Linked DNA regions of Homo sapiens. The protein of the gene in region 2 purifies or fractionates together with the protein of the main gene of each other region. This does not show direct contact. Each region holds a gene or a part of one and is shown on either strand. Other genes may lie near its edges.

What was found. Proteins that work in one complex are often made in the same cells at the same time.
Region 1: the proteins of KCNV2 (region 2) and AMZ2 purify together in Homo sapiens (affinity purification with mass spectrometry; one large-scale study listed by BioGRID and IntAct). This does not show direct contact.

What each region holds. Positions count from the first base shown.
Region 1 is NC_000017.11:68,250,204-68,255,132, reverse strand, and holds part of AMZ2 (archaemetzincin-2), read right to left. Parts: coding exon 4,663-4,929; coding exon of another isoform or gene 4,653-4,662; intron 4,340-4,652; coding exon 4,166-4,339; intron 4,084-4,165; coding exon 3,955-4,083; exon of another isoform or gene 3,746-3,954; intron 730-3,745; coding exon 566-729; intron 1-565. UniProt on the Homo sapiens protein: Probable zinc metalloprotease.
Region 2 is NC_000009.12:2,723,167-2,728,289, reverse strand, and holds part of KCNV2 (potassium voltage-gated channel subfamily V member 2), read right to left. Parts: intron 1-5,123.

The DNA of each region.
Region 1 (4,929 bases), on a different chromosome or scaffold from region 2:
TTCTCAGAGGTGTAGCTGTCAAACCCCAACAAATAGTACAGGTAAAAGCAGAATTTCTCTAGCTGAAGGAAAAGCCCATCTCTCTGGCTATGGAGAAAGGGGAGATAGGCTTTCCACAAAACCGAGTTGGGGATATCAGGAACTGCCAGGACAACTACAGTCGAGGGTAACCTGGAGCCCAGGGCAGGAAGGCCCAGGCTCCCAGAGAGGCCAGAGCAGAGGTTCTCCAAAGGCCTGGGGAAAGCAGCTTTGCCCAATGACCACAGTAGCTTGAAAAAGTAGGTTACCCACTCATACCAGAATTCAGAATTACACTAATAGCACATGGGTACAGCCAAGGCTGTAACTAGTAGTACAGAAAAACTGGCACTGATATTGTAAATTTCAATATGAAGGTATCCATTTAAATTGTTTTACTGATCATTTCAGTCAAGCACTATGCACCAAAATTATACAAATGATACAAACTCATTTATAATATTACCTTACGGACTGACAATATACAGTTTACGGAACTAAGATCTCTTTTAAAGAACTGTCCTGTCAGATTTTTGTAATAACTTACCTTACAGGATCGAAGTAGTAAAACACTAGTTATTTCTGGAATATAATAGTTGTCGAAAATTGAATAGTCACTTGAAGATGTTTTCTTGAGCTTCTTCACTTTGCCTTTATAGTGCATGCTATAAAAATCACTGCCATACCTGGCAAAGCTGAATATCCCCACACCTACAAAAAAAGGACAAACAGTGACAGAATGAGAGTAAGGTCCCTGAAGAAAGACCAAAGAAAGAAGAGACTGCTGGCCCATCTGGCCAGTGAGTGCATCTCTGTGTCACTGTGTCCACACCATCTGATACACTTATGGTTTGCCACCAAAAAGGAAGACTTTTGCCCCAGATTTCCCTATCAAAATCTTTTGCTGCTATCCACTTTGCCTTGCCTTGTAAAACTTAATGGACTTGAGGTCAAATGCTTGAGAAACTGAAGTTTCAGAGAGTCTTTTCCCACAAAAGAAGTCTTTTTCTGAAAGTAGCAAGTACTCCAAATCAAGTACTCAAAAAGGAATCATAAAAAATAACCACATGGGTTGGGCGTGGTGGCTCACGATTGTAATCCTAGGACTTTGGGAGGCCGAGGCAGGTGGATCACCTGATGTCAGAAGCTCAAGACCAGCCTGGCTAACATGGTGAAACCCTGTCTCTAAAAAAAATTAGCCAGGCATGATGGTAGGTGCCTGTAATCCCAGCTACTAGGGAGGCTGAGGCGGGAGAATGGCTTGAACCCATGAGGCGGAGTTGCAGTGAGCCAAGATCGCACCATTGCACTCCAGCCTGACGATAGAGTGATACTCAGTCTCAAAAAAAAAAAAATCACATGAACAATAGGAAGTCATGATTTCACTATTTAAGGACACACTAAACAGATCTGTTACACGTGTGTCTGGAGGGGTTGCTGGCCTTCCCTCACGCAGCACTGACTGAGGACAACTGCCCCTGATGTCTTGAAGCCCATGCTTTAAACCACGGCTTTTGACAGAATAACCTCGTCCCCTTCCCCAACCCTACCCCCTTTTCAAAGAACAGCTCAACTCTATTCTGTCACTAGTGTCTGGTGACCAGAATAAATACCCTTGTAACTGACTTCCTGTGTTACATTTAGAGTTATATCAACCATCTCTGCAAGCACAGAGAACACGGTTTGCTACATAACTCACCCTACAGGGTACTGCTTCATAATTCGACTTGTTTACATGATCACTTTTATTTATGTCTCTCGTTCAGTTTTTAAAGTAATAAACCCATAGTAGATTTGTCCAATCTAATTTGATTCAAAAACAAACTTCCTCACCTCCCTTTACCCAGAAAATGTAGACTGATATTTGAAAATTAAGCAAAGATAGCATTCTGGAAATTAAGAGCACACTAAATCTATTCCTTTATCACAAGTAACCCCCTCTGGCCAATCAAGTGTGAGCATATTTCACTACTTTCAGCAAGGACATTTCCTTCTTCCAATAATCCTACAAATAGACTATTTTTTTCGTAGTCAATGCGTCTCACTTTAAAAATATCAATCTTTGTAAACTCGGAGAAAACAAGACCACTGTGTTAAGATATTGTCACTGTCTAATCCTGCTACTTTCCTATGTAAATCTTTTATGTCATGTAATATTTAAGAAACTTACCAAAAAAAGAATTAAAGTAAATACAGTTTGGGGAAATGTTTCCTGACCTCCTCAAACACATAAGATAAGTTAGCTAGCAATATCTAGATAAACGAACATATGGTTTTAAAATTATTTTTTTAGCTGGGTGTGGTGACTCACACCTGTAATCAAAGCACTTTGGGAGGCTGAGATGGGAGGCTCGCTTGAGCCCAGGACTTCAAGATGAGCTTGACCAACACAGGGAGATCCCATCTGGCCAAAAAAAATCCCATCTGGCCAAAAATAAAATAAAATAAAATAGCCGGGTGTGGTGGTCCTGTGGTCCCAGCTACTCGGGAGGCTGAGGCAGGATGATCCCTTTAGCCCAGGAGGTTGAGGTTGCAGTGAGCCATGATCACACCACTGCACTCCAGCCTGGGTGACAGAGGGAGACTCTGTCTCAAAAGAAAAATAAAAGGTAGATAGAATTATTTTTCAATGTTTCCATCTCTATCAGGTTAATAATAAAAGAGAAAACTTATGATAAAAAGCTACCTCACACCACCAAAATCAGTAAGAAAGTAGTGACCCACGTCTCCAAGAGTGCATGCTGGTAGGGCCATGGGGGCCACAAGAAACCTCACATAAATGGAGAATAAAGAATAAAGGAGTAAGTGGGAAGAGGCTCTATAACCCTACAGCCCCCACCTCTAGTAGAAACATTTGTCCCAAAAAGCTTACCACCCCACACAAATCCTAAGGCTAATGTAACATCCAGACAGACCATAAACTCTCAGGATAGTCCCTGTACTTACTCCCCATCCCCAGAACACTAATGAACCACTCCCCTTAGGGGGCCTTTTCCCTTTCAAGTCTGTGTTGGATTCTTAGGGATGAAGTTAGAGAAATAAGAACAATAATTAAGGGGAGGGGAGAAGTAGAGAGATGACAAAAAAAAAAAAAGGTTAAAAATATGACCGGTTTGCAGAACCTTTCCCATCCCTAATATTACCATACAGAGTTCCTAATGAGTCAAGGTTTATTACATATCTCAAATCAAAGATGGACGTTTTGACTCTTTAAATTAAAAAACAAATGTCGTATGATGAGAAAGAAGCATACACTTAGTCTATGGCTATTCTAACTGTGCAAGATGACTATGAAAAGAATTGAAAAATAATTAGCAAGATTTTCACATCCATTGATAGCTCAAACTGTAATTGGTTTAATTCACCTTGCTACTGAATTACTGACATTTACTAGCTGTTATGCTGTATGCCTATATATATGCCAGGCCTATATATACATTTTTTTTTTGAGACACGGTCTCACTTTATTGCCCAGGCTGGAGTGCAGTGGCTCGATCATGGCTCACTGCAGCCTCAACCTCCTGGGCTCAAGCAATCCTCTCACCTCAGCCTCCTGCGTAGCTAGGACTACAGGTATGTGCCACCATGCCCAGCTAATTTAGTTTTTTAAATTTTTATTTTTTTGTAGACATGTGGTCTATGTTGTCCAGGCTTATCCACACTTTTTATGTACAGGCACTTTTATGTAAATTATCTCCAAATGACTCCATGATGTGGGTATTGTTACCTTTAAGGTCCTGTAGGTAGTGAGTGGCCAACCAGAACCTAGATTATCACAATCTACCAACAGCACACTTCCCATTATGGCATAATGTCTCAACTGAAAATATTTTAAATATCAATATGATTCTTGGTTGGAATTTTTTCCCTCTTCTAACATCTTCAAATATTCTCAAGCTGAAGAAGCTTCTAACAACAATGCCAAAAACGGAATACCATCTGTCAAAGAGGCCTGTCCAAAGACAAAATTCCACGAGTCTCTTGGGTAAAGATCAATCATTGTTATTCCCACAACACAGAAGGCATCTTCAGGTTTCTTCTTTTTCAAGAACTTCAGGATGTCCCCTATTTAAAAAGAAATACATAAATGTATGAGTGTATATTATATACATATACTCAGTTCGAATTGCAAAGTCGTGTAATTCACCTGCATGAATTTGTAGGTTGTGTGTGTTCTCATTGACTCTAAAGGAACATCTTGTTACAGAAACAGGAACTGGTTCTAGGAGTTTTACTCTCAAGCCATAGAAATATGCTTTACAGTAGCCCGTGAGCCATTTAATATATTCTTCACTGATAATTCTGGTGTTTCCTAGAGAGCCTACAATATGGAAGAACATTTAAAAACAGACTTTAAGATGATTATTCAGTGTTTACCCAGTCTATGAGTAAGAAGATTCAAATTAGAAACAAAACCAACTCTAAATTTTCAATAACCTTTATCATTCATTGGTGTTGCTATGAAACAAAAAGAAACAAAATGTTATCTTTTAAGTCAGTTTGGCTACAAAACTTGTACCGCCGCAATGAATATCAAAAACGATCCTAAAACGGCCCATCTGAATCAGACCCATAGCCTGGACTATTCCTGACAAGAGCGCCACTGCAAAACTGAACCAAAACCAGCACATTACCAGTATTTACCAATGGACTGTATATAAATGCTGCGTTTGTTTGGAGAGGGTGTCTTTCTGTAAGGATCACTGAAGAACTGTTCAAAGTCTTGGGGAGCCTCAGGGTGGGAGGTGATCCAATCTGATGGAGAATGCAAGGTAATGGGTCCAAAGAGATCACTGGCTGGCTGGAAGGCTTCATTCATTAAACGTTGTTCCCCAGCATTTAATTTCTCATACTGTGATACAAGCACTGGGTTCTTTGAGATGAGAGCTGTTTTTAGTGTCTGTTCGGAGT
Region 2 (5,123 bases):
GTAGTTGTTGCCATAATTTTCCAGCAGACGGCAGTAAAGCATATGGTCATCTTGTTGATCCGTGCTGAGGTGGCCGTTAGCTTAGCAGTGTAAATATTTTTGTTTTGATGATGTAAGGGTTAGTTTGAACCTGGAATAGTGCAGTTGACTGATTAGAATGAAATGGAGAAGTGAGCCAGCTGCACAAAACTGAGGGCACTGATGAGAACCACAGCTCCATCCAGCCCACGAAAAAAGGAAGGGTATGCCTCCTTTTTGAGGCTGATGATGCACCTCCTGTCACTCACTGCCCTGTCTCTTGTGAGAGGTCATGCAGCCTTTTTCTGCAGAGTCAAAATACAAGCAGGCATCCAAGAGAGGTAATGTGGTGTAGATAAGCTGAAGGAAACGGACTACAGTAGACTTGTGGGTCTGAATCCACTTCCCAGCTGAATAAGTTGGGCAGATCACCTAAATTCTCTTGGCCTCAGTTTCTACTTTTGAAATGTGTGGTATCTACCTCACAGAGTTGTTATAGGAATTGAAGGAGTGCCTGGCACAGGGTGTGTAAGCAATAATATTATTATATATATATCATGTATGCAATCCCAGGGTCCCCCATGCTGAAGCTGGCCTCCACTGAGAAGAGGCAAAGACCAACATTTATTGAGTGCATTCTACACCAGCAACTCTATATACGTTATGCTTATCAGACCCTCAGGCTGTGGAAACAAGCTCCTCCCTGACTCTGCCCTCTGGCTCCAGTAGAGAATATCCTTCTCCCAACTTCTGGACCAAGGGGTGATGTGAGGCAGTGATAAAGTGAGATTGTGGGTTAATCTCAAAGTCCTCTTGGTTGCATGAGTGGGTGTGTCTTTTTTTTATTTAAGTTCTAGGGTACATGTGCACAACGTGCAGGTTAGTTACATATGTATACATGTGCCATGTTGGTGTGCTGCACCCAGTAACTTGTCATTTAACGTTAGGTATATCTCCAAATGCTACCCCTCCCCCCTCCCCCACCCCACAACAGGCCCTGGTGTGTGATGTTCCCCTTCCTGTGTCCGGGTGTGTGTTTCTTGTCATTGACCACACCAAAAGTCAAAGAACCCCAGGCTGATCTCTCTCCAGTTGTGTGAGCTGAACAATAGCTTTCATTTGTCACTAACACCATGACTCACACCTCTGGATGAAAGTTTAGTCAACCTTCCCTGGAGGAGGCCTAAAGGGAGTTTGGATTTAGGAGTGAGTGACAGGAAGGGGTAGTTTAGAACAGCGGTCCCCAACCTCTTTGGCACCAGGGACCGGTTTTGTGGACGACCATTTTTCCCATGGACGGGGTTGGGGGAGGGGATGGTTTCGGGATGAAACTGCTCCATCTCAGGTTGTCAGGTATTAGTTAGATTCTCATAAGGAGCAAGCAACCTAGATCCCTCCCATGCGCAGTTAACAATAGGGTTCCCACTCCTATGAGAATCTAACGCTGTGGTTGATCTGACAGGAGGCAGAACTTAGGCGGTAATGATTGATGGCCCTCCACTCATCTCCTGCTGTGTGGCCGGGTTCCTAACAGGCCACAGACAAGTACCACTCCACAGCCCGGGATTGGGGACCCCTGGTTTAGAACATGAGACATCCACGGAAGTCCAATGCAGAGGCCTTGGAGGAAACAAGTCACTTAAGGGTTCAGGATGGCGGGGATGGGAGAGAGTAGGAAGACACTGAGGAAGAAAATAATTAAGATAAACTGCTTATTTTCAACTTTTGATCATTCTGCACACTGGCTTTGCTTCACCCTTAAGCCAAACTTCTTTTTTTTTTGGCTGAACTTTGAGTGAAAAGTCAAAAGCAAAGAGAATTGGCTTAAAGAAGAATAAATATCTGATGTGTATAATATGATCCAAATATTTTTGTATATCTTCAATCTCTATTTTTAGAGAACAGATCTCTTCTGCTAGGAGGCTATGTGTGACTGGTCCCCAATAATTTGTTGAAAATGTACAGTTAATTTATATGTTGTCTATTTCGTGAATAATTTGACTCAACAAGTGATCTGTTTCTTGTTCCTTGGCTCCAGGAGGAACTCAGGATTCCTTGGCTTTGGGGAACTTTTTTTCCACATTCCATAGGCCAAGCCATTTCTCCCTAGATGGGAATTAAAAGCTGAAGGCCCCAGACTGACCCAAGTGACCTCACAGAATGAGTTGTCACATTAGCAGGAGTTGGGTTTGGAAATGTGACCAAAATTTCCGCAATCCATCTTAATATACTGAAGAAAACTGGCTAGCTCAGCAACTCTGCAAACTGGAAGCTTAACCATTCTGCTGTAAACGTACATACTTTCCTTAGCCTTGGGTCCCAAAGCCAGAATGTGACCTTCCCCTGGCAGTTTACTCACTAAACAACAAATCCTGGCCTGCCATATATTATGAGGATAAGCATCAAATTTTTCTCCAAAACTTGAGAATACTTGGATTTCTCATTTAACAAGACAAGTTTGTTTCCCTCATAATGAACAAGGAATGGAATCAATCTTGGCACCCAGTAGTCCATGCATTCAGGAATTTATGATCCTAGGGAATAAAACTTATTTTTCAAAATAACACTCTTTCTGTTTTCCAAAGGAATTAGAGGTGGTGAAGATGGATCTTTTTTGGATAAAATTATTATAAGCCTCAATACGTGTTGTCCTTCAAAGGATCCAGCTTCAAAGGCTGTACTTACTCATGCTATTATTGCAACAAGTATATTTGGAATTCCTCTTTTGAATTATAGTCTGCACAGTAGATTCAGTAGCAGCAAGCGGTCATATCCACCTTGATGGTTTACTCTAAGTGTCGATCTTAAACTAAAGTGTCTTAACTATTTTAAAATACTGAATGTAGCCTTAAAAAGACAAAGATTTAACAACCTAGAAACAAGTGGATGTGTCACAAACTCTGAAGGTAATTCCTCAGTGGAATTCAAAGAATGTCTTGATTAGTGGAATCACTGTTAGAATGAGGTCATGGGTGACTACCTTCAGGATAATAACAACCCTCATCTGTATATTACAGTTCTGACATGTTTGTAAGTGGTACAATAAGCGGTAGGTGTGCACAGCTAAAGCAAAGCCACAAATGTAAGTTTGAGATCTATTAATCTATCCACAGAAAGGTGCGCAATAATGATGCTGTCCACACCCTCAGCTTCCCTGCATTTCTCCGTGCCCTCAATGATGCTGTCATGTTCCACTCACATCATATTGGCTAAAATGAGGAACATACTTTAAAGACATAAAAGGAGACCACTCCAAAATTGGGAATCCATAAGATAAAAAGTAGTAACAATGCCTAAGAGCCTTTACCCCGTCTATAGCTCCTGTGCTACTTCTGAAGGAGGTAGAACTCTATTACTTTCTGTGCCAGATATTTATATGTTGTCTCTTAGTCCCAAGCCTGACACCCTTCTGTATTTTATTTTATAATTCCAGAACTGGGAGTCTGCAAACTACATTTCCCAGATTCTCTTGCCCACTGTCTTCTAGTTATGTTCTGCCTATGAGAGACTGGAAGATGGTATGAGGACATAAGGGTCTCTAATCCTGCCTCTGGTTTCTGCCTTCATTCCTCCAATTGCAGCCAATAGCTATGGTTCAGGCATTTTTTGGCATTCCTGGCATCAGCCTCATGGTGCCAATTTAGGAGTCCTTGCAACAGCTACACAGAGGCCCCTCCTGTGGACTCTTAGCTTCTGGTGGCAACACCTTTTCCCATTTATTCTCCCAATTCTAGGGCCAATAGCTACTCCCTGCAATTACCAATCTCTGGATTATCTCAGTTTTCTCTTTCTGCTTTTCCAGTCTTCTTTTTTTTCTTCTTCTAGTCTTCTAACAACTATCTATTTCCTTGTATTAAATTCCCTGTTTGAAATATTCACCTTGGTATCTATTTTCCTGACTGCAACCTAATTTATTTTTCAAATGGGTTTCCTCAAAGCAATCAATGAACAAAAATAAAATAATTTCAGTGATCTTGTAAGTGCCACCTATTGGCAAGGTAATGAAAACATACCTTAGGGAAAGAAAGATGGGAGCAAGGTCTCTGGGACAAAATGGTGCCTCAACTAGAGATAAATTTTCTTTTTGAGAAGTTAGTTTTTGAAGGAGTGAGTTCATGCCGTAGTTTCCTGTTTGGTTTCTACAGCTTTAACTTGCCCTGGAAAACTCAGAAGGAAATGGTTCATTCAAAGTCTACTTACTCTTTTCTACTTGAAAACATACCCATGCCCTCCACCCCCCAACCCCCGGCAAAAAAAAAATAAGAAAAAAAAATGTGGTCATATGTTGAGGCTAAAAAAAAAAAAAAAGTAAAAGAAAAAAACCATACCCACACAGGAGGCCAATGATTACAGCTTCATCATAGAGCCCATTGTTCTTGTTTAGCTGTGCCGTGCATTTCCTACCCCCAGGCAATCCAGAGAGCCCCAAGATGGCTGGAGCTGCTTTAGGCGTGGGCCTGTTTATCTGGACTCTCAGAAGTTCTCCCATGAGGGAACAGCTGACCTTCTCGTATGTTTTATAGGTTCTTTCTTTTCCTCAGTAGAAAAAGAATCATTTCTGTTTTATTTTCTTCCCAAATGAATGTAGAAGCAAAGGTTATTGCTTCCATGTGACAAAGACTATCAACTAGTCAGTTATGGTAGCTTCTATTTATTGCAGACTTACTATAGGCTAGCAGTTTACATATGTTTCCTATTACATTAGTGCTCACAAATAACCTCCATTTGACAGATGAAAAAGACAGGTCTATCCTACATCCTAATACATGAGCATTTGTAGACATAAGTGTCCAGGAGGGATTTGTTTTGCAGCTGCAGGAGAATTCACAGTAATGAAAACTACTGTATTTTTCTTAAATCCTTGAGTTGAATTACAGAGAAAGTTTGCAGGATCCTTGGCATAGAGAGAAGAAAGATTATTAAAAGCAAGTCAGATTTGGTGTTGTCTGAAAGTATTAAAAATACATAAAAGAATGGATAAGAGAAACTCTCTGTAATGTGGGATGCATATTTCACAAAGGATACAGCCCCAGAATGGTGAAATAAAATGCCAATTATATTTTTCTTTATCTCATCTTTAAAGTTTCAATTTGTGAGTGTATACT